6 separate regions of the Homo sapiens genome follow, and regions 2, 3, 4, 5 and 6 are each reported to be linked to region 1. The links are microRNA targets in miRTarBase. Many come from high-throughput screens and were not tested one by one. Region 1 holds a microRNA gene; each other region holds the end of a gene's coding sequence.
What was found. The annotated mature microRNA hsa-miR-128-3p reads UCACAGUGAACCGGUCUCUUU and lies in region 1 at 2,547-2,567, shown strand. An mRNA with a match to its seed (bases 2 to 7 or 8) in the 3' UTR can be bound and repressed. Matches are read on the target gene's strand: a 7mer-m8 pairs with bases 2 to 8, a 7mer-A1 pairs with bases 2 to 7 and ends in A, and an 8mer does both.

Region 1 (5,373 bases):
TCACAGAAGCTATGTCTGGGGAAAAGAAAAAAAACAAAACAAACAACAACAAAAATTGAGTTCAAAATTTTTTTCCATGCAGCTGTACTTTTATTGTAACCATTAGTCCTCATCAGAACATTTTTAAGTATAAATTCCTTCATCCCTGAGGATATTTTATGTTTTATATTGAACATAAGAAGGGAGATCAAGGAATAGATATCACATTCATGAGCTTACATTTAAGCAAGACAGTCTTTTCTAAAGGAACAAAACGCTATTTCCTAAAAGACATGTAAATATAAATGCTGACAAATAAATTAGATGAAAGTTGTTCCTATTTTTAATATTGGGAGGCATCTGATGCATAATGGTAGTCATCTTTAATACCACCAAAGTTTGCCAGAGCATAGCTAAATGCTATTATTACTCCAGAATTATTTGTTTTTTATTGTTATAAACTGCCTGACAAAAAAGAGAGAAGTAGTAAGAGCGAATCACTATAAGCAAGGTATACAATGACTTAGTTGCCAGATACTGACCCAAGATTGCTTTAGACTCATTCAGCCTCTTGCCCTTGAATATCCATATGTTATGTAGCCACAGTTATAATTCATCATGATTCCATGAAATTGCAGAGCTACAGGTTCACACAGATTAAGTTATATTTTGTTCCCACTTTATCCTCAGGCAGCAAAATATGTTACATATGTTTCAACAGCAATATTGAAATAGAAAAGTGTTTCCTATTAGACCTGAGCAAATCAGAAAACAAAATAACCATGAAAATCACAGTTCTCAAATAATTGACTTGTAATTTTATCCTATGTATATAATGTTTGTAGGCGGTCTACTAGGGTACTTCAGTTGTTATTTTAGAGAATATGATAGGCGAAAACTCAGAAGCCCAGAGATAGAAAATAATTAACTAAGATCAGTAAGAAAGTGACCTTAATATAAATGAACTGAGGCAGGCAAAGAAGTCTATCAGATCAGGAAACATTTGATTTGGATCATAATCAAATAATCAGAATAATTTTATTCATTCTCAGTCATAAGAAAGTTAAGAAGGTAGCATAAACAACATTTTTATCATATTTTCCCTTTTAGATTGAACATACTTTTTTGAATAGTGGTGTGTACCAATCATTCTGCAATGTGCTTTGATAGACTACCATATTTCATGATTGCATTCTCTGCTCCTTTTAGGCTACAGATCAGCAGTTTTCATGTTTCACCCCTGTTTCCATTAGAAAAGCAATTCAAGTTAGATATAATATTTAAAATGTAGGTTTTCGTTGTTGATGATAACTGTTTCACTCTCTCTTGTTTCATCTAAAAAACACAAAAGTCTTGTTTTAAAACAACCATTGTATGATCACGACTAGGTCAGCAATTGAGCAGGATTTATCACAGATGGCTCATCTCTGCTCCATATGGCTGGGGTGGCTTGACTAGGGCTACACTTACATGCCTGGAACTGGAGGGTAACCAGTCAATTGGGGGTACCTGTGTTCCCCACATGGCCTTTTTCTGCAGCAGAATAGTCTAGACTTCTTTATCTCTTGGCTGGGTTCCCCGCCTACAGACGTGGAAGCTGCAAGTCTTCTTTAGGATCAGACTTGAAAGACTCAGACATCATTTCTGCCTCATGGCGTTGGTAAAAGAAAGTCACAGAACCAGCTCAGATTTAAGTTTGGGAAATGGATTTTGCCTCTTTACGGGAGAAGTAGCATGCACATACACATAGGCATGGGAGAAGTTTGCGGTGGCCATCTTCACAACCTACCACAATTATAAGACGAAAGCATATTTTAAGTTTAAAAATTTACATTATCTACATTTTCATTCTCTGCTTTCTTCCTCCTTTCTTCCACAGATGCCTGTATATTATTACCCATCTGGTCAGTACCCTACCTCAACCACGCAACAGTACCGGCCCATGGCCCCGGTTCAGTACAACGCTCAGAGGAGTCAACAGATGCCACAGGCAGCACAGCAAGCAGGTACTTGGAATCTGTTTCCCATTTGCTTCTCAACCCAGTTATTTTTGCTGGTGAATCTTGTACTCTTTGGATGAGTGTCCAAGCTTGGCAATTTAAACCAGCACATTTTCTCTACCCAGAGAAGATAACAAAGCATTTGATTGACTCTGTGTGGAAAAGTAGTAGGTACAAGAAGGTGAAGCATATGTCAGACTAGCATCCCTGGCATGCATGTTAAACAGTCTCCATAAATTATTTTTTGATCCTTCTTCTGTTAAAGCAGAAAGTCAACCATGTCCGTACCTTTCTAGTTCATACCTTCTTTTAATTTTTTTTTTCTTTTCAATTTGAAGAGAGTGCTTCCTCTGTTCTTAAGGCTAGGGAACCAAATTAGGTTGTTTCAATATCGTGCTAAAAGATACTGCCTTTAGAAGAAGGCTATTGACAATCCAGCGTGTCTCGGTGGAACTCTGACTCCATGGTTCACTTTCATGATGGCCACATGCCTCCTGCCCAGAGCCCGGCAGCCACTGTGCAGTGGGAAGGGGGGCCGATACACTGTACGAGAGTGAGTAGCAGGTCTCACAGTGAACCGGTCTCTTTCCCTACTGTGTCACACTCCTAATGGAATGCCGTTATCCAAAGAGCAGCACGAACCCGACAGGGCTGAGTGGCTTGTGCTAGGGAGAGGTTTGTGTCATTCCTGCTGACCAAACTGCAGGAAAAACTGCTAATTGTCATGCTGAAGACTGCCTGACGGGGAGACTCTGCCTTCTGTAAGTAGGTCATGTAAAGAGCACGTGCTCCTTGCTGCTACTCATAGATGCCTGCTCCGTGATCTGATTTCTGCACTGAATCTATGTTATGCATATGGAATGTATACAGATACATGTATGTAATATATACACAATATGTACCATTTTTATAACCTATGAGAAAAGTGCAGTTCTTGCCAAGGATTAGCACCAATCACAGACATCCTAAGAATACCAATGCTGACACTGCTAGCATCCTGTCAGATTGGAGAAAGAATTAAATTCCCCCGTATTGTGGATGGTTACATGTTCTTTGGTTTATCTCATGGCCTATTTAAAGTCTGTGGGAGAAGAATTAGAGAAACCTATATCTTCCAGCCAGATTTTGTCTTGTTTCAGCACTGTATTAGTTTGGGGAAGAATATATTTGACCTCTGAATTGACTTTAGACTTTTACAGTGTTTTGAGAACACTAAAGGGTTTCAAATAACTATTTATTTTTAAAAAATCACTTGGCAATATTTTCTCTAATTTGTGGAAAACGTTATTACCTTTATCATTTTGGTGGTAACGGTGCTATCAGTTTAGATACATGCTGTAGAAATGTGTTGCTTGCATTCTGGACTATCTTATTTTATGCTAACGTTAATTAAAGGGTTAATTTACAATCTTGAGGATCTTGGTTTAGAGGCTATGTGCAAGTTTTCTACTTGGTTACTAATGCCTTTAGAAGAAAAAAGATGCAGATATCTAATTATAATGATTTTTATTAGGTTTGGTGCCATTGTGTGGCAATTTTTAAAGAGATTATTTCAGTCTTGTGGTAGAGTGTCATCATACAAAGAAACGCAGTTACAAAACATGCTGCAATCCACTAAACCCATAAACTCTAGATCTATGTGAGGGGATGAGAAAGTTAGATGAATATGATAACTGGGCAACAGAATTAGATTTCAAAAAAGTTTAGGCCTCCCCCACTGACTTCTCCATTGCTTTTTCTCCTCTTCACTAACTTTGTTAGTGGATGTCAAAACAAGAGACAATATATGAGGCATTTTTTACTCTTTAATAAAGCACAATGGGAGAATTTAGGGATGTGGAAACACCCTCTCCCATTCAGTTAGAGACCTCACTGGCTCCACCTACATTCCATGGCAACCTGGTAGCTTTGGTTTGTCACATTCTCCCACATCACCGCAAAAATGACCCTCCCAAGGTAAGATAATGACACTGTAATGAGAAGAGTGCACTCTAGAGCAGCATCAAGCTAAATATAGAAGCAAGGCAGTGCCTAGGGTGTCAAGGAAGTGAGTGCCAGTTAATGTGGCCTGTACAGGGTGAGGAAGTGAGAAAAGTGAAATGATCATAAACAGTATTGTCCCCAGAAATGATGGCATTAGTATACACATGCACACTGAGACCTTTGGGCTCTTAGTTTTTGTGACCACCACACTGGATACCTGGCCTAAAATCCCAACACAGTTTCCACCACAGTGATGAATGTACCTAGTATTTGGGAAAGCAGATGGTGTTCCCTGACCTTACAGAGAATCACTTCTGCTAATAAAATCCAAGTAACCAGACCACACAGTGGCTCTTTGAGAGTGCACAGAGGCTCTGGGTCCTACAGCTGGGCGTCCTTTTGTTGAGCCTAGGGAGACTAACAGAAACTTTCCAAATGGTCATGGCAGTCATTTGTGAGAGCAACTCTATGTGGATGGACTATCTCATAGAGGAAAGAGCCTCTTCAGATAACTGTATAAGTTATATTTTCTGGAAGAACTAGAAAATAAGACTTCTCCATCTTTAAGTCAAACTATGGGCTACTATCAGCATGTCACCCTCCCACAGTCATGTTTTAACTTGTTCTTCCTCCTGCCTCCTGCAGCTGTGTGTCTTGGGATCTGACCCTTTTCCATCTTCATCTGATAATGACACCAGATTATGTCATAACATCCTCAGCTATCACGTGGTTAAAATTAGAGTGAGACAGAATTATGTCAGTTAAAGTCAAATGAGATTTTAATCTGAATTTGCTTCTTGGCGCTGTTCTTAATCTTTATTTAATTGCAGTAAAAAGCCTCTCTTCCTTCTCCTACATTCTTGCCAGAATTGAAATCTCTGTCAGTTACTACATCTTTCCTAAGACTTAAAACTCTACACAGTGAATTTTTGTAAAGTGAACTGGACACTATACTGTTGATTAAATAGGACACCTGAGTTCCCCTGTGGCACAGTAGGGAGACATAAGTTCTTTATCCTGGTGATTTTGTACTCTTCATCCGATCAGCACATGGTAAAAGGTCCTAAACATGTGGAAGAGGAAGCCTATGTTGGTGGTAATTATAAATAAAGAACACTAATGTTGGGGCCAGGTGTGGTGGCTCACACCTATAATCCCAGCACTTTGGGAGGTGGAGGCAGGTGGATCACCTGAGGTCAGGAGCTCGAGACCAGCCTGACCAACAGGGTGAAACCCCGTCTCTACTAAAAAATATATAAAAATTAGCTGGGCATGGTGGCGGGTGCCTGTAATCCCAGCTACTTGGGGAGGCTGAGGCAGGAGAATCGCTTGAACCTGGGAGGTGGAGGTGGCAGTGAGTCGAGATTGCACCATTGCACTCCAAATCCAGCCTGGGCAACAGAGCAAGACT
Region 2 (5,373 bases), not on the chromosome of region 1:
GTCCCAGCTACTGGGGAGGCTGAGGTGGGAGGATTGCTTGAGCTCAGGAGGTCAAAGCTGGAGTGAGCTGTGATTGTCCTACTGCACTCCAGTCTGGGTGACAGAGTAAGACCCTGACTCAAAAAAAAAAAAAAAAAAAAAAAAAGAAAAAAGAAAGGAAGGAAAGAAGGAAGGAAGGAGAGAGAAAAAAGAAATAATGGTAATCGTGTTATTCTTAGGAGATGTAAACTGAAGTATTTAGGTGGAGGGATGTTAATATCTGCAACTTACCTTCAAATTGTTCAGCGAACGATTATAAATGTATATATGCATGTGTATAGAGAAAGATCGCATAAATGTGTCAAAATAGTAATAACTGGAGGAGCTAGGTACAAAGTTCAATGTGGGCCAGATGCAGTGGCTCATGCCTGTAATCCCAGGATTTTGAGATGCCAAGGTGGGCAGCTCACCTAAGGTCAGGAGTTCAAGACCAGACTGGCCTACATGGTGAAACCCCATCTTTACTAAAAATTTAAAAATTAGCTCGGCGTGGTGGCACACGCTTCTAGTTCCACCTATCCGGGAGGCCAAGGCAGGAGAATCACTTCAACCCAAGAGGCGGAGGTTGCAGTGAGCCGAGATGGTGCCACTGCACTCCAGCCTGGGCAACACAGTGAGAACCTGTCTCAAAAAAGAAAAAAATTAAATATACTACTCTTTTACCTTTTCTGTGTATATGAAAACTTTCCAAATAAAAAGTTTGGGAAAAGTTATTTGGGGAATTAACATATGAACACCTGTACTCATAAGCAGATGAAATATCCCTCTTGGAGTACCATCTGAGATTTTTTTTTTTTTGAAACAAAGTCTCACTCTGTTGCCCAGGCTGGAGTGCAGTGGGATGATCTCAGCTCACTGTAACCTCCATCTCCTGGGTTCAAGTGATTATCCTGCCTCAGCCTCCAAAGTAGCTGGGATTACAGGCATGTACCACCACACCTGGCTAATTTTTTTGTATTTTCAGTAGAGTATTTTAGTAGAAAATTTAGTTTCACCATGTTGGCCAGGTGGGTCTTGAACTCCTGACCTCAAGTGATCCACCTGCCTCGGCCTCCCAAAGTGCTGGGATTACAGGCGTTAGCCACTGCACCCTTCCCCATCTGAGTTTATTAAAACTCATGTAATCACGTATATCTGCACCAGGGCAAGACTAAAGTGAGGTCAGCGAGAAGCCTAGTCCTGGCCCTGATACACACCATAGATTAGAACAAGTTGGTAATTAGAATGGGGTCCATACCAATGAAGAGGAGTGGTCACCCCTGGTTTGGGTCGACCAGTGAACTGCTATTGGCCTGAAGTTAATGAGACTCTACAGCAGTTGTCAGCCTTAACTGCACAATGAAGTCATCTGAAGGAGCTTTAAAAAATATTCTTTCCTGGGCCCCACCTCTAGAGATTCTGATTTGTTTCAGGTGTTGCCTGGGTATGCCCTACATTGGAGGGTTTTAACTTATCCCAGGTGATTCTAATTAATGTGCAGCCAAAGTTGAGAACCATTGCTCTTCATACTGCCTTATACAACCTGGACAACTATAAAGGGATTGGTAAGGTTCTCAGGGAGAACAGGTGTGTGGTTTTACCAGAGTTGGAAGAGACTTTTTTATTATCATTTGAGACTCAGAGAGATTCTAGCAATAGGAGGAGCCAGAAAGTTCTTTTATTTTTTTAATTTTAAAATTTAAAAATAGAGACAGAGTCTCACTATGTTGCTCAGGCTGGTCTTGAACTCCTGGGCTCAAGCAATCCTCCTGCCTCACCCTCCCAAAGTGCTAGGATTACAGGTGTGAGCCACCATGCCTGGCCTAGAAAGTTCTCATACCATGGAGACTAGACCTTTTTTCTCAAGGGCAAGGGACAATATATTTAAAATACTTGGGCATAGGAGCAACCCCACAGGCCCAAACCCGGAGCTCTCAAAGGGATGGGATGAATTACTGTTGTCAGTTGTAAGTATTAGAGACAGCTGCTCAGCCTTTTGAAGAAATGGCAAGGAACAGAAAACTGAAAGTATCCTCAAGGAGTCAGATTCTAACCCAAAAGAAAAGTTTCTGGACATTGGTTGAAATATACATGACACTGCAGGAGGGGAAGGTATCACAAAGTGAAAAATTCAGTGGTTTGTGAAAGGTCTGGCTAGACACAGTGGTTATCCCATTAGGAGGCAAAGCCAGGTTCTTATAGGTACACATGGTCTCTCTTGAGTAGGAGGTCACTTCCAGATCTGTCACCACAGAAGAGGTGTCCCAAAGGGAAAAGAAATAAAGCGAGAGAGGATTGGGTAGGCAGTACTCATTCTAGCTTGCCTGGGACTTCCAAGTTGGTTTTATTTATTTATTTATTTATTTTTTGAGACAGGGTCTCCCTGTGTCACTTAGGCTGGAGTGCAGTGGCGAGATCTTGGCTCACTGCAACCTTTGCCTCCCAGATTCAAGCGATTCTCATGCCTCAGCCTCCAAGTAGCTGGGACTACAGGCATGTGCCACCACACCTGGCTAACTATTTTTTTATTTTTAGTAGAGACAGTGATATGGTTTGGCTGTCTCCCCACCCAGATCTCATCTTGAATTCCCACATGTTGTGGGAGGGACCTTGTGGGAGGTAATTGAATCATGGGGGCAGGTCTTTCCCGTGTTGTTCTCGTGATAGTGAATAAGTCTCATGAGATCTGATGGTTTTAAAAAGGGGAGTTTCCCTGCACTTGCTCTCTCTTGTCTGTTGTCATGTGAGATATGCCTTTCACCTTCCACCATGATTGTGAGGCTTCCCCAGCCACGTGGAACTGTAAGTCCATTAAAACTCTCTCTTTTGTAAATTGCCCAGTCTCAGGCATGTCTTTATCAGCAGCGTGAAAACAGACTAATACAGATGGGGTTTCACCATGTTGGCCAGGCTGGTCTTGAACCCCTGACCTCAAGTTCTCTGCCTGCCTCAGCCTCCCAAAGTGCTGTGATTACAGGCGTGAGCCACTGCACCCGATGAGACTTCCAAGTTTTCATACTGGAAGTCCTGTATCCCAAGAAACCCTTTGGTCCCAAGAAAGAAACCCTATGTCCCAAGAAGGTCCCAGACAACCCACATAGCTGATCAAGCTACTATGCAGGGAAGGGGGTCATATAATTCAGACCTGGACTTGGAGAAGAATGAATGTCTACATGTATCCTCCTTTAGAGGACAAGTCCTGTATTAGGGTGAGAAGCAGAACCAAAACTGAGACTCTCGTGCAAGTGGTTTATTGATGGAGTGCTCTTAGGAGAAGGGGAGTGAGGGAAGCAGCGTAGGACAGAGGAAAAAAACTGAGTAAGAATGTGCTCTCAGAAGAAGACTGACTTCAGCTTGATTCCATGAGGAGCTCTGGGAAAGGAAGTTCCTTGATGTAAGAGGTCAGTCTTTTGTACCTCCATACAAGAGGTAGCAATTCTTTTCTAGAGATGGTCTCAAAATTAGAATACATCAAAATCACTTGGAGGGTTTGGTAAATCAGAATGCTGTGCCAACCCCCAGAGATTCTGATTCAGTAGGTCTGAGGTGGGGCCTGAGGATTTGTATTTCCAGCAAGTTCACAGGTAATGCTGATGATGCACTTTGAAAACCTCCACTCTAGAGAAGAGGACAGCTCTGAGGTGTTAGCACCCACAGCATCTCGCAAAGGGGATCAGGAAAGCACCTACTACATGAAGGCACATGCCAGGGACAGATGGATTGGACCCCAAGCTGGGGCTATGTAGACTACATCTTTAGGTCAGAACATCTAGATTCACAGTATCTTGTATGTTCCTGTTGTCATCTCACATCTCTTGCCAACGCATTGTTGAAACATTCTTACTTGGTCTTGTTATTGGACTTCAAGAGAAGGGTCTGGGAGATACATGAGGCTTTGAAAAGGAAGTAGCTGCAAGTTGCTAGGCAAATATAGTGGCATCAGTTGCAATGGAGTGGAAAGTCCTTAAACGAGTGATCAATATTTAGTGGCAAGACTCTAGACCAACCCTGGAAATTGCCTGATGTTTGTGAAATTAAAAGAAAATGGCTTTGATGGCAACTTTTAATTTCATAAGCCACGCCAGAATTCATAACAGTCTCTGCTCCTGAGGATCACCACCAGGTGAAGGTGAATGAATAAATGTTAAAATGGAATTCGTTTCTTTTGGTGGGGTACGTCAGGTAGAACTTGGAGAATACCTTGTACCCCTGGGCCTTAATGTCCATCTCCAGGCAGTGCATGAGGTCGCTGTTGTCTAGGACCGCCTTCCAGGGCCCAAACTTGACAACAGACTTGAACATCTTCTTATCCTGCAGAAAACACAGGACCTCTGAATAATATGCATCCTGCTCCTCAGTTTCCACCAGGCACACAAGCACGCTGGACTTCCGTGCTGTTATGGCTTCTGCACGTGCCAGGCGCACCATGAGCTCCAGGTTCTCGCTGTAGCCCGGCACTTGCAGCAAAAACTGCTTCCGAGACACCTGCTCACCAAAGATCTGTGGCATGTCCTCCAGCAGCTTGACCAAAGGCTTGATTTCGTAGAACTGAGCCTCACGGTACACTTCAGGGATGTGCTGTGTGGGCACTTGCCCAGTGCGCAGGTAGTCCAGGATGGGTCTGAAATAGGTGCTGGGGCGGTCGATGAAGAAGCGGCCCTCCGCGTCCGTGGAGGCCTTGGCTAAGCTAGAGAACATCTCTGCCAGCTTTGAGCCCGGAAACTTCCTCAGGGTACCCAGGGTGGTGGTGTGGAACTCACCCCCGACGTTCAGCTCCACAACAGTAGACATCTGGGGGCACAAGAGGCAGAGTAAACCAACACGCCATCTCCCCTGAGCGCATTACTTATTTTTATCCAAAGGATAACTGGATAAAAAACTTAGGGGAGCCATAATGATTGGCTTCAGCTAGTGAAAGGCCCATCTTACTAAAGAGGGTTATATTTATGCTGTGTTGCTCCAGGGGGTGGGCTTTTTTTTTTTTTTTCGACGGAGTCTCGCTCTGTCACCCAGGCTAGGGTGCAGTGGTGCAATCTCGGCTCACTGCAACTTCCACCTCGATTAAAGCAACTCTCCTGCCTCAGCCTCCCTAATCGCTGGGACTGCAGGCGCCTGCCATCATGCCCAACTAATTTTTGTATTTTTAGTAAAGACGAGGTTTCGCCATGTTTGCTAGTCTGGTCTCAAACTCCTGACCTCACGTGATCCGCCTGCCTCAGCCTCCCACAGTGCCCGGCCGAGGGTGGGCATTTTAAAGAGGAAGAAAGATTTCTGTTTGAAAAAAGAATACCCATTCAAGCATCTTAATTTTAGGTCATAGAATGTTATGGGAGGAGGCCAGGCACGGTGGCTCAC
Region 3 (5,373 bases), not on the chromosome of region 1:
TAGGGGGACAAACTGCAGAAGGGAGGGGGGTTAGCTTCCAGCCCCATAGGCTACCAGTGGACACTCCTCAGTGCCTCCTTGACTTCCCAGGTTAGCTTCCAGCCCCATAGGCTACCAGTGGACACTCCTCAGTGCCTCCTTGGCTTCCCAGGGCAGTCTATCGCCTTGATCTCCGGGATCACTGGAGAGAACAGCAAACCGGCGCCTACTTTTCTGCCCAGGAGCCTTTTGCTTGATGGATGGTATCTGTGTTTGAATGTGCAATTTTGTTAGGCTTTTAAAAGGCAGGAGATTCCCCGCGGTCTGTGGGCCTCTCCTAGCTTGGCATTATAATCAAGAAATTATACTTTGCTATGCAAAAGCATGATGGCTTTTTTAAAAAAATCGTTTTTTAATGTTCCCTTCCCAGGTTCACCCTCCCTTTTTGTTATTTTGAATTCTGGTCGTAACAATTCGGTCTTACTTTTTTATTTTTTATTTTTTGTTCGTTTTGATTTACATTTTTATTTTTTTTCCCCCACAAGCAGAAGGTTTTATTTTAAATTCCAAGAATATGATGGTCAAAATTGCTGGGAAGATTCTGATTTAGGGTTGTCACTGCAGAGCATTTCCATGTCAATGTAAGTAGGTACCCAAAGTCGTTTAGGTGCAGCATTCAGTAACGTAAAGGTAAAGAAAAAAAAAGTAGCCACCTGTGGCTTTTTATCCCCAGTCGTAGTAGGAATAAGATTGCATGGTTTGGGCACACTACCAATCACAATTTCCAAATTTCATTTCCACCACTGAGATGCCTTGACTCAAATGAAACATTAGTATAGGTTTAGGTGGTGTTTGTGTGTTTTTGGTGAAACATTAGTATAGGTGTAGGTGGTGGTTGTGTGCTTAACTGACCCCCTAAAAACAAGACCAAATACTTAAGCACGGAATGTATTTCTGTTTATGATATGGAATTCAATACACCCCTTCAGTGGTATAAAGACATTCCTGGATTTCTTTAGGATAGGGTCAGAGTTGGTTTACTATCTGGCCTTCAGTTTTTAAAAGGGGCGATTCTTTGATATAGCAATAGCGTCAATTTTTTTTTTCTTTTACCTTTACAGGTGAGAAACCTTACCACTGTGACTGGGACGGCTGTGGATGGAAATTCGCCCGCTCAGATGAACTGACCAGGCACTACCGTAAACACACGGGGCACCGCCCGTTCCAGTGCCAAAAATGCGACCGAGCATTTTCCAGGTCGGACCACCTCGCCTTACACATGAAGAGGCATTTTTAAATCCCAGACAGTGGATATGACCCACACTGCCAGAAGAGAATTCAGTATTTTTTACTTTTCACACTGTCTTCCCGATGAGGGAAGGAGCCCAGCCAGAAAGCACTACAATCATGGTCAAGTTCCCAACTGAGTCATCTTGTGAGTGGATAATCAGGAAAAATGAGGAATCCAAAAGACAAAAATCAAAGAACAGATGGGGTCTGTGACTGGATCTTCTATCATTCCAATTCTAAATCCGACTTGAATATTCCTGGACTTACAAAATGCCAAGGGGGTGACTGGAAGTTGTGGATATCAGGGTATAAATTATATCCGTGAGTTGGGGGAGGGAAGACCAGAATTCCCTTGAATTGTGTATTGATGCAATATAAGCATAAAAGATCACCTTGTATTCTCTTTACCTTCTAAAAGCCATTATTATGATGTTAGAAGAAGAGGAAGAAATTCAGGTACAGAAAACATGTTTAAATAGCCTAAATGATGGTGCTTGGTGAGTCTTGGTTCTAAAGGTACCAAACAAGGAAGCCAAAGTTTTCAAACTGCTGCATACTTTGACAAGGAAAATCTATATTTGTCTTCCGATCAACATTTATGACCTAAGTCAGGTAATATACCTGGTTTACTTCTTTAGCATTTTTATGCAGACAGTCTGTTATGCACTGTGGTTTCAGATGTGCAATAATTTGTACAATGGTTTATTCCCAAGTATGCCTTAAGCAGAACAAATGTGTTTTTCTATATAGTTCCTTGCCTTAATAAATATGTAATATAAATTTAAGCAAACGTCTATTTTGTATATTTGTAAACTACAAAGTAAAATGAACATTTTGTGGAGTTTGTATTTTGCATACTCAAGGTGAGAATTAAGTTTTAAATAAACCTATAATATTTTATCTGAATAATGTTTTTTATTGTTTTGTTTTCCTCCTGGAAAAATATGAACAGTGTTTGGTTTAAACACACCGGGTTAATAAGGCATGTAAGAAGCACGCACAAAAAAGCCAACTTTATGTCAACAAATTAAAATACCTTTTTTTATTAAAAAAAAACTATTTAGTTTTACCATAAATACTATCAATATAGGGCTGAGAACTCTTGATTATTGTACGTTTAAAAATTACAAGATTAAAAACCCAGTTCAGGTTTGCTCTTTCCAAATGTACGTAAAGCTACGTGAAAGCAGTTTCCTTACCTATGATTTTCCCAGTAGAAACAGCTTAATCATCCTTAAATTTGCTCAGTTTAGTATGAAAATATTTATGAAATATATACATTTCAGTTTCATATTTGAAAAAAATCTTTATGGTTTGTCTTTTAAAGTAAATAAAAATAAAAAAGTTTTCTGTGGAGGCCTGTCCCAGCACCCCTCACATCTGAGTAACAAAAGAACCTTCCTACAGCAGACAACCCTAAGAACGTAGTTCCACAGTGCCCTCCTGAGGATTAAAGGGTTCATTTATGCTTGGTGTGTGTTAAAGATACATCACTTCTACTAGTTACAGCCTTAAAGAGGTCAGAACCAAAGTTTCTGGCAGATTGTTTTAAAGCTAAATCAGTTCCCCTGACTGAAGGTGGGAAAACAAACTGAAATAAAATAATTTAAAAATTATTCAAATTCATAAAACTAAGTGTAAAGTAAGATGGTGTTATGGTAAGTTTGTAGCGTTTATATTAGAAGTTTTAATATTAAAACTCAAAACTGCCCTGTTAGAATCTGAAGTTCTTGAGATGGGTGCCTGAAAGATTGAAATTCATTTGGGGCTATCGCAAAATGGAAAAAGCATTTGTGACACTTGTTGACACCTTATATACTTGTAATAGTGATGTGGGTGACTAAACATCATCAAGGGGACAGAGCTCACTGCTCACTGGCATTTTTTTTAGAGTGCTTATTAACTATTGATTGTATCTAGTGTCCAGAGGTGCGTTTGTACCATGGGTACATGTAATAAATGAAATAAAAAATGGATGTTTATAAGAGGCTTATGGTAGATCAGCACAAGGTATTTTCTTTGGCTTTTGAGAGTCCACCATGACTGGAAAGCATAGCATGTGTCTCTGCTTAAAAGAAAACAGGTGCATCAATAGGATGGAATTTTATGTGGCCAAGAACATATTCAAAGCATATTTAATGACATGGAAAAATGCTCATAGTAATGTTAAGTGGAAAAAGCAGGATATAAGACTATCAACAGTACCAATTCAACTGTGTACATTTAAGTGTATGTGTGCTTTGAAGGAGAGAGAGAGAAACAAAAGGAAATTAAGAGAAAACCCTAGAAGGAACTGCCAAAATATTCATACTGGTTTTCTCAGTTTTAATTTTCTTTTCTTTTTTTTTGAGATGGATTCTTGCTTGTCACCAAGGCTGGAGTGCAGTGGTGTGATCTCGGCTCACTGCAATCTCCACTTCACAGGTTCAAACGATTCTCCTGCCTCAGCCTCCTGAGTAGCTGGGATTACAGGCGCCCACCACCACACCCGACGAATTTTTGTATATTCAGTAGAGACAGGGTCTCACCATGTTGGCCAGGCTGGTTTCGAACTGCTGACCTCAAGTGATCCGTCCACCTAGGCCTCCCAAAGTGCTGGGATTACAGGCATAAGCCACCGTGCCCAGCCTAAATTTTCTTTTTTGAAGTTTTCAAATATTCTAAAACAGCTATAGTAAGTTTGAAAAACTTTTTCATAAGAATGAAGATATAAAGAACAATTAAAATTATTTAAACAAAAAGCCCTCATTAGAACACATTATTCTGTAAATTATGTTTAGATTTCTTTAAGTTTAAATTTCTTAAATTTCTGTTAAATTGTGGTTGGTTGCTTTTGTAATCCACCTCTGTTATACAGAATCTTTTGGCACACGGTGTATGAAAATGACTGAAAAATGCCATCTTTATATTTGCTAAGTGCATATTATCTCGAATAGAAGAAACATGCATAAACTATCAAGAATTTTAAATTTATTTAAAATTTTCTGATGTCATAGATTAACATTCCTCTACGTTAACTTTTTCTTTATTCTTAATTTTTATTTAATTCTTTTTCTTCAGCTTTTAAGTTCAGGGTACATGTGCAGGATGTGAAGGTTTGTTACATAGGCAAACATGTGCCATGGTGGTTTGTTGCACCTAGATATTAAACCCAGCATCCATTAGCTATTCTAACTGATGCTCCCTCTCCCCAACCCCTATTTTTTTAATTTTTAATTTAATTTTAAAAAATTTTATAGAGGCAGGGTCTCACTATGTCGCCCAGGTTTGGTCTCGAACTCCTGAGCTCAAGCAATCCTCCTGCCTCGGCCTCCCAAAGTGCTGGGATTACAGGCATGAGCCATAGCACCCAGCCTACATTAACTTTTTCTAGCCTGAAAAAGAAAGCTTCAATATCTAAAATGAATGAGGAAGATTTCCCAAAACTGTGACCAAACAAAATACTATTCGACATACGCCAATAGCTAAATTATTTACTCTGGGACCTATCAGCTGTGGGCTCCTAGGTGTGCTGTCATTATGGTGTTACAGAGCCGTTTATACACTATACAATAAAGAGTACCTAATAATTGTGATGCCTGCTTATTATATTTTCCTTATGACACTTAATTTTACTGTTTCTTATTTTAACTTGTGTGCCTACACACACAAAGGATTAACAATGATGTTTCCTACACACATCAACAGACTTTCAGTCCACCTATTTTCCAGCAAAATGTCTCTTCTGATAAAATTCTTTCTGCCTGAAAACGTATTTGACTCTTGCTATCCTGTTTCAGTTTGTAAAACAAAACAGATGCTTTCACTATCTCAAGTAGGATGGTCATGAGGAATATTTCTTTTTCTTCCAAAAATTGTTCCAGGCCGGGTGTGGTGGCTCACACCTGTAATCCCAACACTTTGTGAGGTTGAGGTGGGAGGACTGCTTGAGGCCAAGAGTTTGAGAGCAGCCTGGGAAACATAGCAAGACCTCATCTCTATCAAAAAAAAAAAAATCAATGAAAAAGTGTTACAATTTTTAGAAACATGAAATGCTCTTCACAGTTGGAGATTGATAATTTTTACATATAATTTATTTCCATATAAGGAAGCCCAGGGGAGGTA
Region 4 (5,373 bases), not on the chromosome of region 1:
GGTGCCCAGAGCTTGATGGCTTGATGATTGGGTTGGAGGATTGAGGCTGCTGATGGCATTACAAGGCTCATGGGATGCTACTTCTAGAATATTAGTGCATCTGCTTCAAGTGTACCTTTGGAAATGTAAAATGATTTTGAGATCACGTAAAAAAGCCAAGCTCTGGACTTCACCAAACTCACAGAAGAGTTGCAGGCACTCTTTTGCCTGCTTGCTAAAATGTGTTTCATTTAAAAGTATACCGGCCGGGCGCAGTGGCTCACGCCTGTAGTCCCAGCACTTTGGGAGGCTGAGGTGGGCAGATCACTTGAGGTCAGAAGTTCAAGACCAGCCTGGCCAACATGGCGAAACCCATCTCTACTAAGAACAAAAAAAATTAGCTGGGCATGGTGATGCGTGCCTGTAATCCCAGCTACTTGGGAGGCTGAGCTGGAAGAGTTGCTTGAACCCAGGAGGCGGCGGTTGCAGTGAGCCGAGATTATTCCGCCACTGCTCTCCAGCCTGGGCAACAGAGTGATACTCTGTCTCAATTAAAAAAAAAAAAAAAGGTATCCCCACACATAGCAGAAACTGTTTCTAAAAGTTGTTTTCATCATGAAATAGTGAAGATGTGGTGTTTTGGGGGCTACCTTTACCTGCCAAAAAAGACTGTGCATGACCAAATTGGTTTAGGTCAATCTGCGACAAGGCAGTAGGCGAGTGGTGCAGGCAGAGAGGGGCCGCCTGGCAGGAGGAGCCTTAGGGACTCAGGTGCAAGAGAGTTCTCAGGAACTTGGAAAAAGGCTGGTTTACTAGGGGTGCTGGCTGCTGGGGGTGGTTCCTGAAGGACTTCGCTTCACTGAGCTTAGAATTTATCCCTCCAATCAGTGTTGTTGAAAATGTGCCCAAGAAGTGCTTGGGGTGGGAGGGGGGAGCGGTGGGACTCTAGATCCTGCTTTTAAAAATAAGCTCCCCAGGTGATTTTCAACCCACCAGAGTTTAAGAATACCATTTTAAGCCATTGGTATTGGTTTTTCAAAGTGCTGGGGGGTTCTGGGGGGCGCTGGGGGGCACTAGGGGGGCGCGGGGCGGCAGGGAGGGAGATGACTGGATGGGTGCCTTCGCAGCAGGGCGGAGCATGGATGGGAGGGGACAGGTCAGAGGTCAGGAGGTTTTCGGACAGTCCAGATGACAGTGCTGGAAAGGGCAGGGGCAGTTTCAAAAGACACTTTAGGTAGTGATCAGTCAGTTGGCTGGAGTGCCTGGCAGGAGGGCTGGGTGAGGGAGCCAGCAGGGCAGATGACTGACAGATTTCTGGTTTGGGGATAGGATGGAAAGTAAGAGCGCAAACCTTCCTTAGGCTACTGTTGGGTCTGTCCCTTTAGTCTCGGGAATGCGGATGGAAGCACGGCCTGCAGTTCTGTCATTCTCTGGGCCTGTCTGGGCCGCTGCCCCAACCACCCATGCCAATCTGTGTGACCGAATCCCCCTCAGCCCACTCGTGGCTGCCCTTGCTACCACCCATGCCAATCTGTGTGACCGAATCCCCCTCAGCCCACTCGTGGCTGCCCTTGCTAGCAGCTGCTCAGCCTCTCCAGGTCCTCGGTCCCTGCCTGTGCCATGCCTGGTCACTGATGGGTTCTAGAAGGTGTGGTTTCAAATGAAAAAGGCATTATGTGATAACACTCAAAAAAGGAGTTATTATAACCTTCACTACTTAGTTCCTTTTAAATAAAATAAAGACAATCCCCAAAGTGGATTATGCAGAATAGACAATGAGGGCCGTTTCCCCATGGTCGCTGTTGCCCCAGATCCCTGCCAGATGGCTCGGCAGAGCAGCTCAGGTTTCAGCAAATTGCAGAACCTCATTAGGACTCGATTTCATGTTTTTAGATGCTGTAGGCTCTACATCAGATGATGATGACTTCGGAAACCTGTATGACAACACAATGAAAGCATGCTAGTGACATGTCCAATGAAATCTGAAACAGTCGGTGAATTCTTTGCATATTTTATTTTTCTTTTTTTGATTTCCAACTCACACACATCTGGCATATTTTACATCTTTGCAATAAAACATGGTTACAATAGCTTAAGGAATTTATATATCCAAAATATTTCACCATGATCTCAAGATGAAATGAACTTGTCTTCCAGATGTTAAGTATCCTCCCAATTCTAAGCTACAAACTCAAGATATTGCTTACAGCCTGGTGATGAATAACTTAATCATTACGCTGATTCCCCATAATTTCAGAATTTCATAAATACAAACAACAGTGAAGAAGGAATTCAGTGCTAAAACTTACTAGTACAAGGTGGATAACAAATAAGTAATCACATCAATAAATAATGATATGTTTCTGGTGCAAAGTGCCAATACAAAGAACCCATTATCTTGTTTTATCTTTTTAAATAAATGACTGCGAGTGAGTGTAAATTCTGAGAAAATTACATTCCTGTAACATGCCTCATAGCCCTACCGACACAATATGTACATCTATGACGATACAGTCACCAAATATACAAAGAAGAAACATGAAGAAAGTGTATATACCCCTGGGTGTATAACTTGATCAGTACAATGTATGGAAAATCATTTGATAGCCATCATTTTATATCATAAAAGATGAAATGCCTTAGGCTAAGAATGTGGCTTTCAGTGAGAATTTCACGAGAACCTAAAAGAATAACTTCAGTTATTGTTGTAATAAAGTTTGACTTGTTATTAAAGAAACTAAGCTATTCAAGAACCAAAGAGAAAAAAAAAGTTAGCATCAGATTATCCTCCCCTAATGTATACACACCAAGCCAGTGGGATAACTCTGGAAGAGATGTCCAGGTGCTGGGAAGTTATTACTACAGAACTAACGCCCATGACTCCTATTTATACAAGAAAAACCAGGACCTCATCCCTAAGCCCCCTTTCTGCTGTGTCTTCAAATTATGCAGGGTAGGGCTGAATTTTCTTTGTATAAAGTACCCAAAATGGCAAATAATGGCTTAGTATCCAAATGCTTTATGAGCAAATTTCACTCAGAAGGGATGACTTTAGATTAAAAAGTGCAAACTATATTTTGGTGAAAATGTCAAAAATTACTGATGGAGCCCAAATTCAACCCTTTCATACAAGCTGTGTCCTTGGACAGATCTTTCTGTTTCATAGTGTGAATGCACCTGTTCCATCAAGCCAACAGGAGTAAGGAACATGCAAGTTGTAACTCCACAATAAAATTAAGAAACATTTTGTTCTTTATACAAGGTTTTACTTTTACAAAAGTATCCCTTTTAAATAAGATGCATCTGATGTACAAAGTATCAAACGTGTTTTTTTTTTTTTTTCTCAGCTTGAAAAGAGGCTGGAAATGGGATGCAGGTTAGGTTCAAAGCTTAAACTTTGTAACAACTGGACACAAGGTTCCTCAGAATTGTCAAAAGTCTCTTGTGACACATCCTACAACCTTTTCTCAATAAACAACAATATATGAAATAATTACCAAAACATCTCCTAATTCATATAATTTACATGATATAAGCTTGCTTGATAGCAGCTGGTGTTCAGTCGTGAAAAAACACACAAAGTAAAATGGTTGCTGACTACAATGTACAGCTATTGCTGGGTGTGATGGAATGTACAAACGGAGGTCGATGTAGACGAGTTTTTTCCACCAGAGATATTGCCTTTCCATGCAGCACTTGTGCTCTCAGCTTTAACTTGGCTTTTGGTTCTTCCTTTATCTTCAGTATCTGTTCTGATGCTCATAATGCCACCGATTAAAATCTATATTAAAAGCTACAATGCTACCAGAAGCCATGCCAGTGATCAGAGTCCTGGAAAAGCAGAAACAGCAGTTAAGAGTGATATAAAATCATTTCTGTGGTTGCTATTTTACACTAGACAGTATCTCAAAGTTTGGCATTTTACACTAGACAATATCACGATCTCAAGGTTTGCCAAGTCTTAATTTTGTATTCATGGAAGTAGGACTGAAATTTCTTCTTGGTTCTGCTGAGAGGAGCACAGTTAGCCCGCACACACCTGGACAGCCAGCCCTGCTGCAGAGCGTGAGGGGCCCACGGAACCACATTTCCAGCCTCCGCTGGGTGCCCCATTTCTCTCAGCAATCACACACGTGCCTGTCCGCTGCCTTGTTTTGGGCATCTATTGGCTTCTCTGAGGATATCTGGCATCTCTTCCTATCTCTGTGACCTTTCTTTTCTTTGCCCCCTTGAATCACTCCACCTCTTGTCCTCTCGGTCCACAGTCTCCCTGGACGTAAAGGCAACGACGTCTCATTCTGAAGCCCCAGATGCTGATTTCCCATTGCCAAGTGGAGGTCACTGCCAGGCTGTGTCACAAAACCCTCAGATTCAACATGTCCACCATGAATCACTGGTACCTTCTGACCTTGCTGGTCTTTTGCTGGTTAAGTCACCTTGTCTCCTCTCCCTCTCCCTCCTAACTGATCAGCTGTTCAGCTCTGAGGCTTCTTTTTCAGGGATATTCCTCCCCAGTCCCACTGCCACTGACTGAACTCAGGTTTCAGGATTTCTGTCTACATAAAGTGTTGCTTCACTTTTGATTAGACACCTCATCCAATAAATACCTTTTGAGTAATATCCCCAATATATGTTTATCAGTTTATAATTGATATGCATGCACTATTCATTATAAAACAACAAAATAATCAAAACCAAGGATGAGGTTAAAATAGAAATAGAAACTTAGTATCTTTCCCCCCTCCATTGAGACCCCCTAATACTACTGCAACTTTGAATATGCTCTTCCATCCACCCTGTCTGTTCATGCCTGGTGAATGGATGAGCCTCTTCTAAGGTCTTTCCTGCCCTTCCCAGCCCTCAAGAAGAGTTCATCCCTTCCTTCTTCTGTTAGTCTGTTCCTGGTGCCCTCATATGCAATGATTATGAGGATCTGAGCTCTCTGGGGTCAGTTTCTTGTTGTGGATCCTTAGTACTTTGCACTGCACTCAACCTATGATGATGGCAGCAAAATGAATACACGAACGAGTAAGAATATCAGGGAAATATTGAAACTGCTTACAAACACAAATCATTTCAAACACTCTGGAAACACACATATATACAAATAGTAACACAACAAACCATTCCCATTTATTCCTAAGTATGGGCTGCAGCACTTTGGGATACTCCAATAATAACCTTAAACCTTCTTTAAAAACAGTCTGGGCTGCAGACCAAACATCCTTTCCCAGACTAAATTAGCTTACAGCGTTTTTCCTGATGACTTCAGTGCCATTTTATTATATTGTGAAGATGCTTTGTTAACTTTATTATGTCTTAATATTTAAAATATTTTAAAACCAATACTGTTATGAGGAATATTACATGTAGTTGGGAAAAACGTTGATTAAC
Region 5 (5,373 bases), not on the chromosome of region 1:
ACAAGTTGTTTCTCAACTACAATTATTTGACAGCTACTCAAAAAGTGCATATACTGCAGGTCTTAATACTACTAACTACTGGTAAAAATGACTAAACCAGAACTGCCAGCACCAAATTAATTTCAAGGGTTATAATTTTATGCATTTAGTATTAACTAAAATGCTAATTATCATTGGTTAGCTTTTCAAAATCATACTGCCTACAGAATTTCCACAAAAGACTAATTTCACACAATTTAATTAAGATGTGAATATGAGATTCTGTGACTCTTCCCACTCCTCTCCCCCTGACAAAGAAAACTCATATAGTGGAGGAAAAAATGGAGTCATGCAAATAGGACAATGATGAGGATCAATTGAATAGTGAAGACTCCCAAAGTTAATTAATTAGATTTTAACTGCTTCAAAAAGACCAGGGTACTTGGATCACATCAAGTAACTGGATGTTGGAATATGAGATTAATGCTTGTACAATCCTCTCATTGTATGTAAAGATGCTATCCTAAGAAAATGATTTGAATAGTATCTTCCCTTATTAAATCTTAGAAAATTTTACTTTCAGGTATTTCATAACCTGAAAAGGCTAAGAACTTCCAAGAGTTCTAATACAGTAAAAAAATCAACCATGTCCCATATGTATTGAAACAAATTAGAAACTGTTAAGAATTTAAGTACCTTGAAACTACTAAATTCAAGATAACACAAAGATTCATGTTGAACAGACCTCACCAGATCCAGACTGACAACATATACCACAAAATTTGGCCTAATAGTCACAAACCATGAAGACACAAATATATTCGTTAATATTAGCAGCTCTGCTATAACTAGAATAGTTTTCAAAATATTTCCAGTGGCTCTAAAGAATGTCTAGCCACAGCTCAAAAATCACATCCAGGTAAGATCTTAGTCTTAGAAATCTGTGCATTATCTTGTTTTCCTGATAATTTAAAAAATCAAATTTTCACCTATATACATCCCCAGAAAAAATTTTGAATCTCCTTTTCAGGTACAGTGAAAATTCAATAATACATCTCCTTAATAAGATTTCCATCATATTGATAAATTTATATTTTTATTTTTCATTTCACTTGAAAAAAATTAGCTAATTTTTACCAATGAAATGGTAAAAATAGAGGCAACTATAACTTAAAATTACACAGCTTCTTAATGTTTTATTCATAGCATTCTTTATACATCAGAAGCTTCACTGATATTTAATTTACTGCAGCATCCTGTAGGTGAAGCACAAAAATTACATTAAACAAAGAAACAAAAGCACTTTTGACTTTTTAAAATTATATGTGTATTTATATCCAGTTGACAAATAGCATCACAATTATTACTGTATAAAAAACTAAAAATCACCATGGAAGCTAAGGCCTAAATTCTCATTCCAATTGTTCCCTTTTGTTGATACCTAAGAGATATTAATTAGATTCCAGTACCTCAAAAAAAAAAACAAACCCAAATAAACAAAAAAACCCAGGTCTACATTATTTACATACAGTATGGGAAAAAAAGCTGCTTTTTGGCTAACTTAGATTGCGGTTACCTGCAGTATTTACACTGTAAATGTTAAGGGGAAGAAGCACTACTAACAAATACCATTTAAAAAAAATATATTGTGCCTGGAATTTTATTCTTAAATTAGTTGTATATCCTAATAAGTGTCTGTTGAATAGAATTTGACTTCTAATAAATCTACTGAAAGTGTGAAACAGAGTACCACTATGCTTCTTTATATTGCTAATCTAGATCCTGTTAGGTCCAATATTGTAGTTAACTATAAGCACTGAACCTTAAATGAAACAATGGCAACATGTGTGTAGATGAAATTTTATTCAGTATTGTAAAATATAATGCCTTGATGTTTACTCACAATTATGAGACTATCCTATTCTTTTAATCCTTTAAGAAGTCTCATATGATAGGTCCCTAAACAGTGAAACCTTCCAGTAACTTACCAGAAAAAAGTTTAATTATGTTATTCTGTTCTTAGATGTTTCTAATATTTAAAAGCATATCTAAACCCTTGGCAAAAACAAACACAATCAATTCAGTGTAACAGACTGAGCTTTAAACTGTACTTTAATTTTCAATAACTGTAACCTACTGGTTAATTGAACCAAACGTAGAGTATTTAAATGACTCACTATGAAGTGTGTCAAATCAATGATAGAATGCATAGAAAAGTGGAGATAAGTTTGGGGGAAGGTGCAAGGTGGGTTAATGTGAAAAACGGTAAATGCCAGTTTTAATAACAAAAATGGTACTAAACGCAGATGAACATTAAATTAATACAGTATAAAAGAGAACAGCTTAAATAAACTGGTATTCACATATTACAATAGCAAAGTTATGACAGAATGAACTGAAGACACGAACAGTTTTGAAAATTCTCTTTTCAGCCTACTTCCAAATAGAAATAGTCAGGCTTTTTTCCTGTACATAGTTTGATGCTTTGTCTATACCATATATAGTAGAAAAATAAATTCTTTAGCAACCTAGAAACAGTTTATAAAACTCTTAAAGTTTAATTTTCTTTGCCAGACATGCCAATAGTTAAACTGACAACTATAAATTAAAGCTATATAGACAATAGGTATAAGTAATATAGAACAGGTTAAGAATACTACATTTACCGGATTTTTTTTTAAAAATTACTGTACTTTCTTAATTCCTGTGTGCTTTGCAATAGGAATAATAGGGACTTTGTTTTCTTAGAAAAGATAACATGTAAGAGTATAACACAAATAAGATAATTTATAATATACATGTACTTCAACAGCAGCCTGGTTCATGCCAACATCTTGGTTCTGAAGTTAAAATTGGAAGTACAATACCTAGAACTTAACAGTTGGGAGAGACAATATTTATTTTAGGAAAAAACAGAGCAAATCAAACTCTTAGGAGCCTTGAATCTGAAAATCATCTATTTACTATAATACACATAAGATAATCTTAAATTGTAGTATGAATTAAGATAACATTGACCAAATAATTTTTTTCTTTACTACACAAAATATAACCTAGTGAAATTTACCTGTGCCACCTATTCTGAAAATTTTATCCATAATTTAGTGTTCTGGTTTTATCTTCACTAACAAAATGTTTACCCCCAAAAGCAGCAGTCACTTATAGTAATTCTGGTACCAACATCAAAGGAAAAAATTGGCTTAAAAATGGTGCAAAAGCCATTTTGGATTTTAGTACAACACATCACAGAAAAGAATATGAATACAAATTTGTAATATAAACACTCCAAAGAGTCTGTCAGTACCCAAAGTATTTTTATTGCTATATTAGCAATGGGTTTTTTGGATATTTTTTAAGGGCCACATAAAAATAGATTCAAGGAACAAATTAAATTGAAGTCCTAGATTTAAATGTTTGGTTTAAAGAATTTTCTACAACAAATTTCATGTTTATGTATGAAAAGTTATATAACCTTATATGAAAATGTCATGGAAGTATTTTCTACACTATACTAAATGTGTTCCCCAAGAGGGAAAAAATTAAAATATCTAAAATATATTAGATTAAGATTACAAGACCATCATAGATCTTTTGAACATGCATCTGTTTACAGAATTAACAGTATACAAAATTTTTATTTCATTATGGACCATAAAGAAATGAGTTGGTGACAACTATCCTTTGCACAACATTATCAACTCACTTTAGCCACAAGCATGTCCTTGGTATGTGTGTAAAAGAAATAGGTTCATTTATCCCTCATCAAATCATCCACGGGTTTACTTGGAAGTAAAGATGAAGGTACAGAAATGTGAAATATGTCAAGTGTATTTTTTCTTTCTTTCAAACAACATCCCAAGCATGGCCTCAGTAGCCTGAAATTATAAAATACTTAACTGGGCTTTTAGTTATCTACACCGACTGCCAGAATGTAAATTAAGTTGCCCAAATTAGCACATCAAATAACAAAATCAGCCAGAAAGCAGGCTGAAAAGCATTAAATGTTTCATATAGGTGAGTTTTTAAATCATTTAATTTCTATAGAAAAATTTTATTCACAATATAAGGTGACAGAAATTGCCACAGGAATGATATACTGATTGCAATAAGGTTGCATGCAGCAGCAGCTTTGTACTTTATAGCTATTTTTGTTTATAAAAATTAAACCTCTCCAGTCATGCTTATCACATGGTCTTAGATTTGTAATGTAAGTGAATAAGGAATACCATCTAGTTCAAAGAGAAAATGTAATTTTGAATGTGAATTATCTGTATGAAACATGAAGTATACTACTGAACCCTGAAACATGCATGTCTAGATTTGCTTTTTGTCCAAATCCAGCCTGTTTGCAATCACTTCCTACTCATATAATACCAAGAGGATCCGTTTGTAATTGTGGTTGTATCAGCTGAGGTTGCAATGGTGGCGGCAACTGAAGTGGCACCATTGGTTCCACCAACTGTCCTGGGTTTGAAGGTGGTGGAGGAGCCACAATGTTTGTCGTTTCTACAATTTCTCCATTGTAAAAGAAAAACTGACACTGCTGAATGAATGTTTCAACAACAGATTGATGAATCTTAGTAGTAGACAGAAACTCTCGATTTTCAAAATCAGGTCTCATCAAGGTTGGCCAAAAACAGATGGATAAGTTGTCTGCTGTCATTAGGTTGATTTTATGTTGCTGACTAACCCTGAAATTATGAAAGGAAAAAACATTTAGAAATCAAAACTCATTACAATCACAGAATTCCAGAGCTAGAAATGATCTCAGATTTAATGTTACCTTTTATCCTACTTCAAACCTGGGGTTTAAAAATTTGCATAAAGAAGCATCTTTAATTCGTATGTAAAAAACTTTTCCTGGGCCAGGTGCAGTGGCTCACGCCTGTAATCGCAGCACTTTGGGAGGCTGAGGCAGGCGGATCACCTGAGGTTGGGAGTTCGACACCAGCAGGACCAACATGGAGAAACCCCATCTCTACTAAAAATACAAAATTAGCCAGGCGTAGTGACAAAGCCTGTAATTCCAGCTACTTGGGAGGCTGAGGCAGGAGAATCGCTTGAACCTGGGAGGTGGGGGTTGTGGTGAGCCGAGATCGCGCCATTGCACTCCAGCCTGGGCAACAAGAGTGAAGTGAAATTCCGTCTCAAAAACAACAACAATAACAACAAAAAACCTTTCCTGATGTGACAAATTGTATTGAGTTTCTGGCAACAGAAACAACAAATTCTAATTGTATATGTAACTTCTTTGACTACTGTGAGAGATGAAAAACCAGAGTATGCTCTCTCAACTAGCTTTGGAAAAATTACTACCATAGGTGTTTGACACTAATATCAGGCTAATTTTCCCTTCCTTCCTCTGTTCCTCTCTTTTTTTTTCCTCTCTCTTTC
Region 6 (5,373 bases), not on the chromosome of region 1:
AAAGGGGCACTGTGTCTATAACTTACTCTCATATGGTTCAGGCCGGGCGCCGTGGCTCACACCTGTAATCCCGGCACTTTGGGAGGCTGAGGCGGGCAGATCACTTGAGGCCATAAGTTCGAGACCAGCCTGGCCAATATGGTGAAACCCCGTCTCTACTAAAAATACAAAAATTAGCCGAGCATGGTGGCACATGCCTGTAATTCCAGCCACTGGGGAGGCTGAGGCACAAGAATCGCTTCAACCCAGGAGGCAGATGTCGCAGTGAGCCGAGATCACGCCATTGCATCCCAGCCTGGGTGACACAGCGAGACTCCATCTGAAAAAAAAAAAAAATTCAAATGGTTCAGAACTAAATAATGTGTGTGTATGTCTAGGAAGAGAGGGAAGATGTATCCATGATAAAACGTTAACGTATTGAAGAATCTGAATGTACGATTCCAGTTTACTGTTTCTTGCAATTTCTGTCAGGCTGCAATTATTTCAAAGTAAAACGTCTTAAAAATCTTTAAAAAATGGCTCCCTTCTTCCCTCCCTCCAGTCCTTGTCCACCCCAATCCCACCTCCTGCAACCCACCAGGGAACCACTTTTGTTAGTATATTGTCCTAACCTCCAGAGTCTCCGTATGCAAATACAAACAAGAATGAATCACGTGTTGATGATTTTCATCCCTCTTCTGCCCACAGAAGGGAGCACATCTGCCGGTGATTTCTTTTTCACTTAGTGCTTTGGGGTTTGCTCAGGATCAGAATATAGAGGCTTTCCCCATTCTTTTCTCAGCTTCATAGTATCTACCCCCACTAGATCCAACATCCCCTTGGTGGTGTGCTCCACCAAGCCCGGACTTTTTTTTTTTTTTTTTTTTTTTTTTTTTTGAGACAGAGTGTCACTCTGTAGCCCAGGCTGGAGTGCAGTGGCACGACCTCGGCTTACTGCAACCTCTGCCTCCCAAGTTCAAGGGATTCTCGTGCTCAGCCTCTCAAGTAGCTGGGATTACAGGCATATGACACCACACCCAGCTAATTTTTGTATTTTTAGTAGAGACGGGGTTTCACCATGTTGGCCAGGCTGGTCTCGAACTCCTGGCCTCAAGTGATCTGCCCCACCTTGGCCTCCCAAAGTGCTGGGATTACAGGCGTGAGCCACCTCGCCCGGCCAATTTTTAAATTTTTTTGTAGAGACAATGTCTCGATGTGTTGTCCAGGCTGGCCTTGGACTCCTGGGCTCCAGCAACCCTCACACTTCAGCCTCTAAATAGCTAGGACTACACAGATGTGAACCACCATGCCCAGTTCCCCAGATAATAATACTAAATAACTGTCACCCACTAGGGCTCAGGTGTGCTGGGCCATGGGCTGGGTGGCCACAACTGCCACAAGTTTCTTAAATACAGGCTTCATCTCCAAGGCCACCAACACCCTGAGCCAGGCCACCATCCTCCCTCCTTTCCTTCCCTCCCTCCCCTCTGGCCCTTTTTTGTTTGTTTGTTTGTTTGAGACAAGGTCTCGTTCTGTGACCCAGGCTGGAGTGCAGTGGCGAGATCTCAGCTCCCGACCTCAAGCGATTCTCCTGCCTCAGCTTCCCAAGTAGCTGGGACTACAGGCATATGCCCCACCATGCCCGGGTAATTTTTTATTTTAGTAGAGACGGGGTTTTGCCATGTTAGCCAGGCTGGTGTCGAACTCCTAGCCTCAGGTGATCTGCCTGTCTAAGCCTCCCAAATTGCTGGGATTACAGGCATGAGCCAGGGTGCCTGGCCCCCTCTGGCTTTCTCATGGTCTCCCTGCCTTTGTCTTTCTCCTCCTGGACCCCTGAGATCCATTCTCCCAAGCAGCCAGGGAGATCTTTGTAGGAAAGGTAACAGCAGGCCTCAGCACTCTCCTGCTTTACAGCCCCAGTGGCTGCCCTAGGGGCTTAGACAAAATTCCCACCTGCTTAGCACCACAAGCTCTGCAGAGCTGGGCCCACTCTCCTCTCCCACCCTGTCTTCCCAGTCCCTCCGCCATCCTGGTCTTTCTCATGGGGGCAGCACATTCCAGCAGGCTTGCTATTCCCTCCCCCAGATCCTTCCCTGCCGGCATCTTTCTCCTCCTTCAGGTCCGGGCTGGAATTCAGCTCTTCCAGGGCTCTCACTGCCTTGGCCTGGGGAGCCCCACCCCGTTGTTCTCTAGTGCCTGGCACCCTTTCATTCTGTCCTGGCACCATCACTGTAGAAAAGCGGCTTGTTTATTTAATCACTTGTTTGCTTTCTCTCTCCCCGACCAGAACATACGTCCCATGAACGCAGGGATGGCCTGTCTTGTTCACGGGTGTAACCCCAGGGCCTGGCACATATGGTACCCTCGAAACCCCTGAATGAATGAATGCCTCTGTACAGTCTCCGAGAGGAAGGCACTACTGTCACCCTGTTTTATAGACACAGAAACTGGGGCCCCCAGAGGGAGAGAGCCTTGCTCCAGGTGCCCTGAGAGTCAGCGGCATGAGCCCAGCCTACCGAACTCCCAGGATGACCTGAGGGGCCGGGCTTGGTGACCTCAGGCAAGCCCACCTCTGTGCCTCATTTTCCGGAGGCCCGACCCCCAGGGATTATGTGAAGTCATGAAATCATTCATTCAGCACCTACTGTGGGTGGATGGAGACGACCTAGAGGGACCCGCAGGGACCCAGGACACAGTAGGCCTTCAGCTCATGGATGCCCAACCCCCATCCCCCCAACTCCCTAACTTCCCTTCAGGGAGGCAGGCCACAATTTGGCGATTGTTAGAGAACGTTTTTTTTTTTCCTTTTGGGAGGAAAGCTGCAAGTCATTAAGGGCTGCTCCCGGCCTGCGGGTCACCATTTCCTGTTTAGAAGAAAGAATCATCTCTCCTTTGGAACATGAAGCTCCCCCCACCCCCAGCCTGACTCTGGGGCTCCGAAGCTCTGGGACGCCTCAGCTCCTCACAGGAAACTGGCACCTCCAGCACCTTTTGTGTTCAAAAAGGACACTCATTTTCTCCTGGCCCCAAGAGGCCCCCAGTGGTGAGGTCACCACCATCGGCTGGCGGGGAATGAATTACCCTAGCCCAAGACGCATGCTGACCGTCCCGCCGTCCTCGGAGCAGGAAGCTGAGTGACCCCTACCCTTTGGCCTGGCTTCTCACCCTACTGGCTCCAGCCAGCCAATTTCCTCGCATCAAAGGCCATTTGGTACCCAGCAGCAAGACGGAGGTGTGGGACTGACAAGGAGGCCCAAGGGGGCCTGGAGCCCTTGGAAACAGGAAGGACATCCTCTGTCTCCTTGGTCGCATTCCACTCGCATCTGGGGGAAGCGGACAATCCCACCCCAAAAGACCTGCAGTGCTGGGGCAGAGCTTTGCAGCCTGTCTAGTTGATAAGACCCAGGAAGCCAGCTTTGCACTCCGTGGGCCAGATCAACTTCAAAATTCAAGAACGAGAAAGTAAAAAGCCACAGTGTATAGTGAAGAGCTCGTATGGATGCCGCTGGCTCACCCAAACAGCAGCAGACAGGACACCCAGGCCAACGGGAAAACCCAGTCTCATAAGGTCCCTGACAGTGACACCCAGGACTCCAAAGCCCTATGATGTTTCCAAGGACAAGATTTAAGGCTGTGTCAGAAATATCTAAGCTTCAGGAATTCCTGTCCCCTCCTCCCTTACCAAAGACCTTTCAAAATACCCACTCCTCTATGACACCAAAGACTTTTTAATATATAAATTAACTGCTTTATTGAATATCAATAAACTGTACATATAACTATACAAAACGTTTCCTTGATACAAAATGTTTGAAATATAAATACCAGTGTACCTTTAAAAATGTAAACATCTTCCTCCCAGGCCCACCTGTCGGGCCCCCAGAATAGTTCTGGGAGACACATCGGTCAGACCAGAGCACCCCACTTGGGCCCCCGACAAGTGACAGCCATTACTCACAGTCCCTTTTCAGACATTGTTAAATTGCCCGGGAAACAGGTGCCACCCCACCAAACAGGAGGCTGAAATAGCTGCCTGGGCTCGGGGCATCTCAGACTCTAGTCTGCCACCGCCTCCGCAGGCCCTGGGGCTGCACCTGGGGGTGGATTATTGCATAGTTAGTCACACCTCGTGGAGGGTGGCCTGAGGGTTCCTTGTGGGGGGGTGTGTGTGAGGGGAGTGGGGTCCCCTGAGTGGGGTGGGAGCTTCCCAGTGAGTCTGTCAGCCTTTGTCCTGTAGCTCAAAGCAGCTGTATCCAAACAGCTCTGGATACAAAAACCCACGCAGACAGGCCAGCTCAGGAATCCCCCAGGGCTGGGGGCCAGCTGCCCTCCCTCCACAGAAATGGCCATGGGAAGGCCTCTTCCAGAGCCCAGGCAGAGGACACAGAACCAGAAAATGGTCTTCATCAAAGTCCTGTGGGGCTGATGTGGCCAGAAGTGGGGCACTCAGGAGGGAATTCCATGGCAGTGAGAAGGATGTGGGGTCCTTCCTGCTGGAGCTGGGGAAGGCTGTCAGGCAGGGGCAGGTATGGAGAGGAAGAGGGAGCCTCGAGGGTCAGCGGGGACATCCTGAGCAGCCGGACTCTTGGTGCTTGTGGAGCAGGGACATTCGGGAGAAGGTCCGAGCACACGCCTGGCACTGGTACTTCTTGACATCTGAGTGGGTCTGGAGGTGGGCCCGCAGGTTGGAGCGGTCAGCGAAGGCACGGCTGCAGTGGGGACAGGAGAAGGGCTTCTCGCCTGGGGAGAGAACGCCAGAAAGGCCGAGTGAGCCGTGGGACAACGGCTGGCAGTGATGGGAATCCCTCCCCGCATACCCCAAACCCTGAAAGAATCCCATGATCCCAGGAAAGCCAGGCCTCCGTCAAACACACAGCCAGGGTCCAAAGGCCGGGACCTGACGGAGCTCTGCTGCTTCCCACTGTGCAACTCTGAGCAAGTTGTCTGGCTTCTCTGAGCCTCCATTTTCCCACCTGTAAAATGGGGCTATTCACCCCCCACTCATAGGGGTTGATAAGTGACAGAAGGTAGGGTACTCATCCACATCCCGCAGGGACGTGCGAAGTGGTCAACAATGACTCAACACCTTTACTGATTCATCCTACTGTCACTTGATCCTACTGTGGTCTCATTTCAGAGACAGTGAAACTGAGGCCCAGAAGTAGCATGTTCAGGTTCCCCTGGCAGGACCCCAAAGCCTCTGATTTCACCTACTGCCCTTACTGCCTTCAGTCAAGGGAGGACGTGACTGGTGTCCTTACCATCAGTCCTGGAGTCATTCCTTGATTTACTCTGTTGGGGGCCAAAGCCAGAGTCAGCCTTAAGAGGCTTCCCCACCCCCACCTCCAAGCTGGTTAGGCCACTCCTGGGGCCCGGCCAGCAGCCTGCTTTCCT

Region 2: the mRNA of KCTD14 is a reported target of hsa-miR-128-3p. Seed matches in the 3' UTR shown: 7mer-A1 at 3,794-3,800.
Region 3: miRTarBase lists KLF4 as a target of hsa-miR-128-3p. Seed matches in the 3' UTR shown: 7mer-m8 at 1,934-1,940.
Region 4: miRTarBase lists NBEA as a target of hsa-miR-128-3p. The part of its 3' UTR that is shown has no 7-base or 8-base seed match.
Region 5: miRTarBase lists ARHGAP5 as a target of hsa-miR-128-3p. The part of its 3' UTR that is shown has no 7-base or 8-base seed match.
Region 6: the mRNA of SNAI1 is a reported target of hsa-miR-128-3p. Seed matches in the 3' UTR shown: 7mer-A1 at 3,934-3,940.

What each region holds. Positions count from the first base shown.
Region 1 is chr3:35,741,981-35,747,353 of GRCh38, forward strand. MIR128-2 (microRNA 128-2) reads left to right here and starts at 2,496; the gene lies at 2,496-2,579. ARPP21 (cAMP regulated phosphoprotein 21) reads left to right here. Exons shown (of 21, transcript NM_001385562.1): 19 at 1,859-1,985.
Region 2 is chr11:78,012,462-78,017,834 of GRCh38, forward strand. It overlaps KCTD14 (potassium channel tetramerization domain containing 14), which reads right to left. Exons shown (of 2, transcript NM_023930.4): 2 at 3,254-4,809. The coding sequence ends at 4,132. NDUFC2-KCTD14 (NDUFC2-KCTD14 readthrough) reads right to left here. Exons shown (of 3, transcript NM_001203262.2): 3 at 3,254-4,809. Among named protein-coding and RNA genes, the nearest start is that of KCTD14, 8.1 kb to the right of the region's middle. RefSeq lists an enhancer at 4,189-4,689.
Region 3 is chr9:107,481,654-107,487,026 of GRCh38, reverse strand. KLF4 (KLF transcription factor 4) reads left to right here. Exons shown (of 5, transcript NM_004235.6): 5 at 1,101-2,175. The coding sequence ends at 1,276. Among named protein-coding and RNA genes, the nearest start is that of KLF4, 5.4 kb to the left of the region's middle.
Region 4 is chr13:35,669,338-35,674,710 of GRCh38, reverse strand. It overlaps NBEA (neurobeachin), which reads right to left. Exons shown (of 59, transcript NM_001385012.1): 59 at 1,975-3,810. The coding sequence ends at 3,720. Among named protein-coding and RNA genes, the nearest start is that of LINC00445, 26 kb to the left of the region's middle.
Region 5 is chr14:32,153,918-32,159,290 of GRCh38, reverse strand. ARHGAP5 (Rho GTPase activating protein 5) reads right to left here. Exons shown (of 7, transcript NM_001030055.2): 7 at 1-4,670. The coding sequence ends at 4,343. Among named protein-coding and RNA genes, the nearest start is that of RNU6-7, 45 kb to the left of the region's middle.
Region 6 is chr20:49,987,218-49,992,590 of GRCh38, reverse strand. It overlaps SNAI1 (snail family transcriptional repressor 1), which reads right to left. Exons shown (of 3, transcript NM_005985.4): 3 at 3,705-4,719. The coding sequence ends at 4,535. Among named protein-coding and RNA genes, the nearest start is that of SNAI1, 6.9 kb to the right of the region's middle. RefSeq lists an enhancer at 2,177-2,929.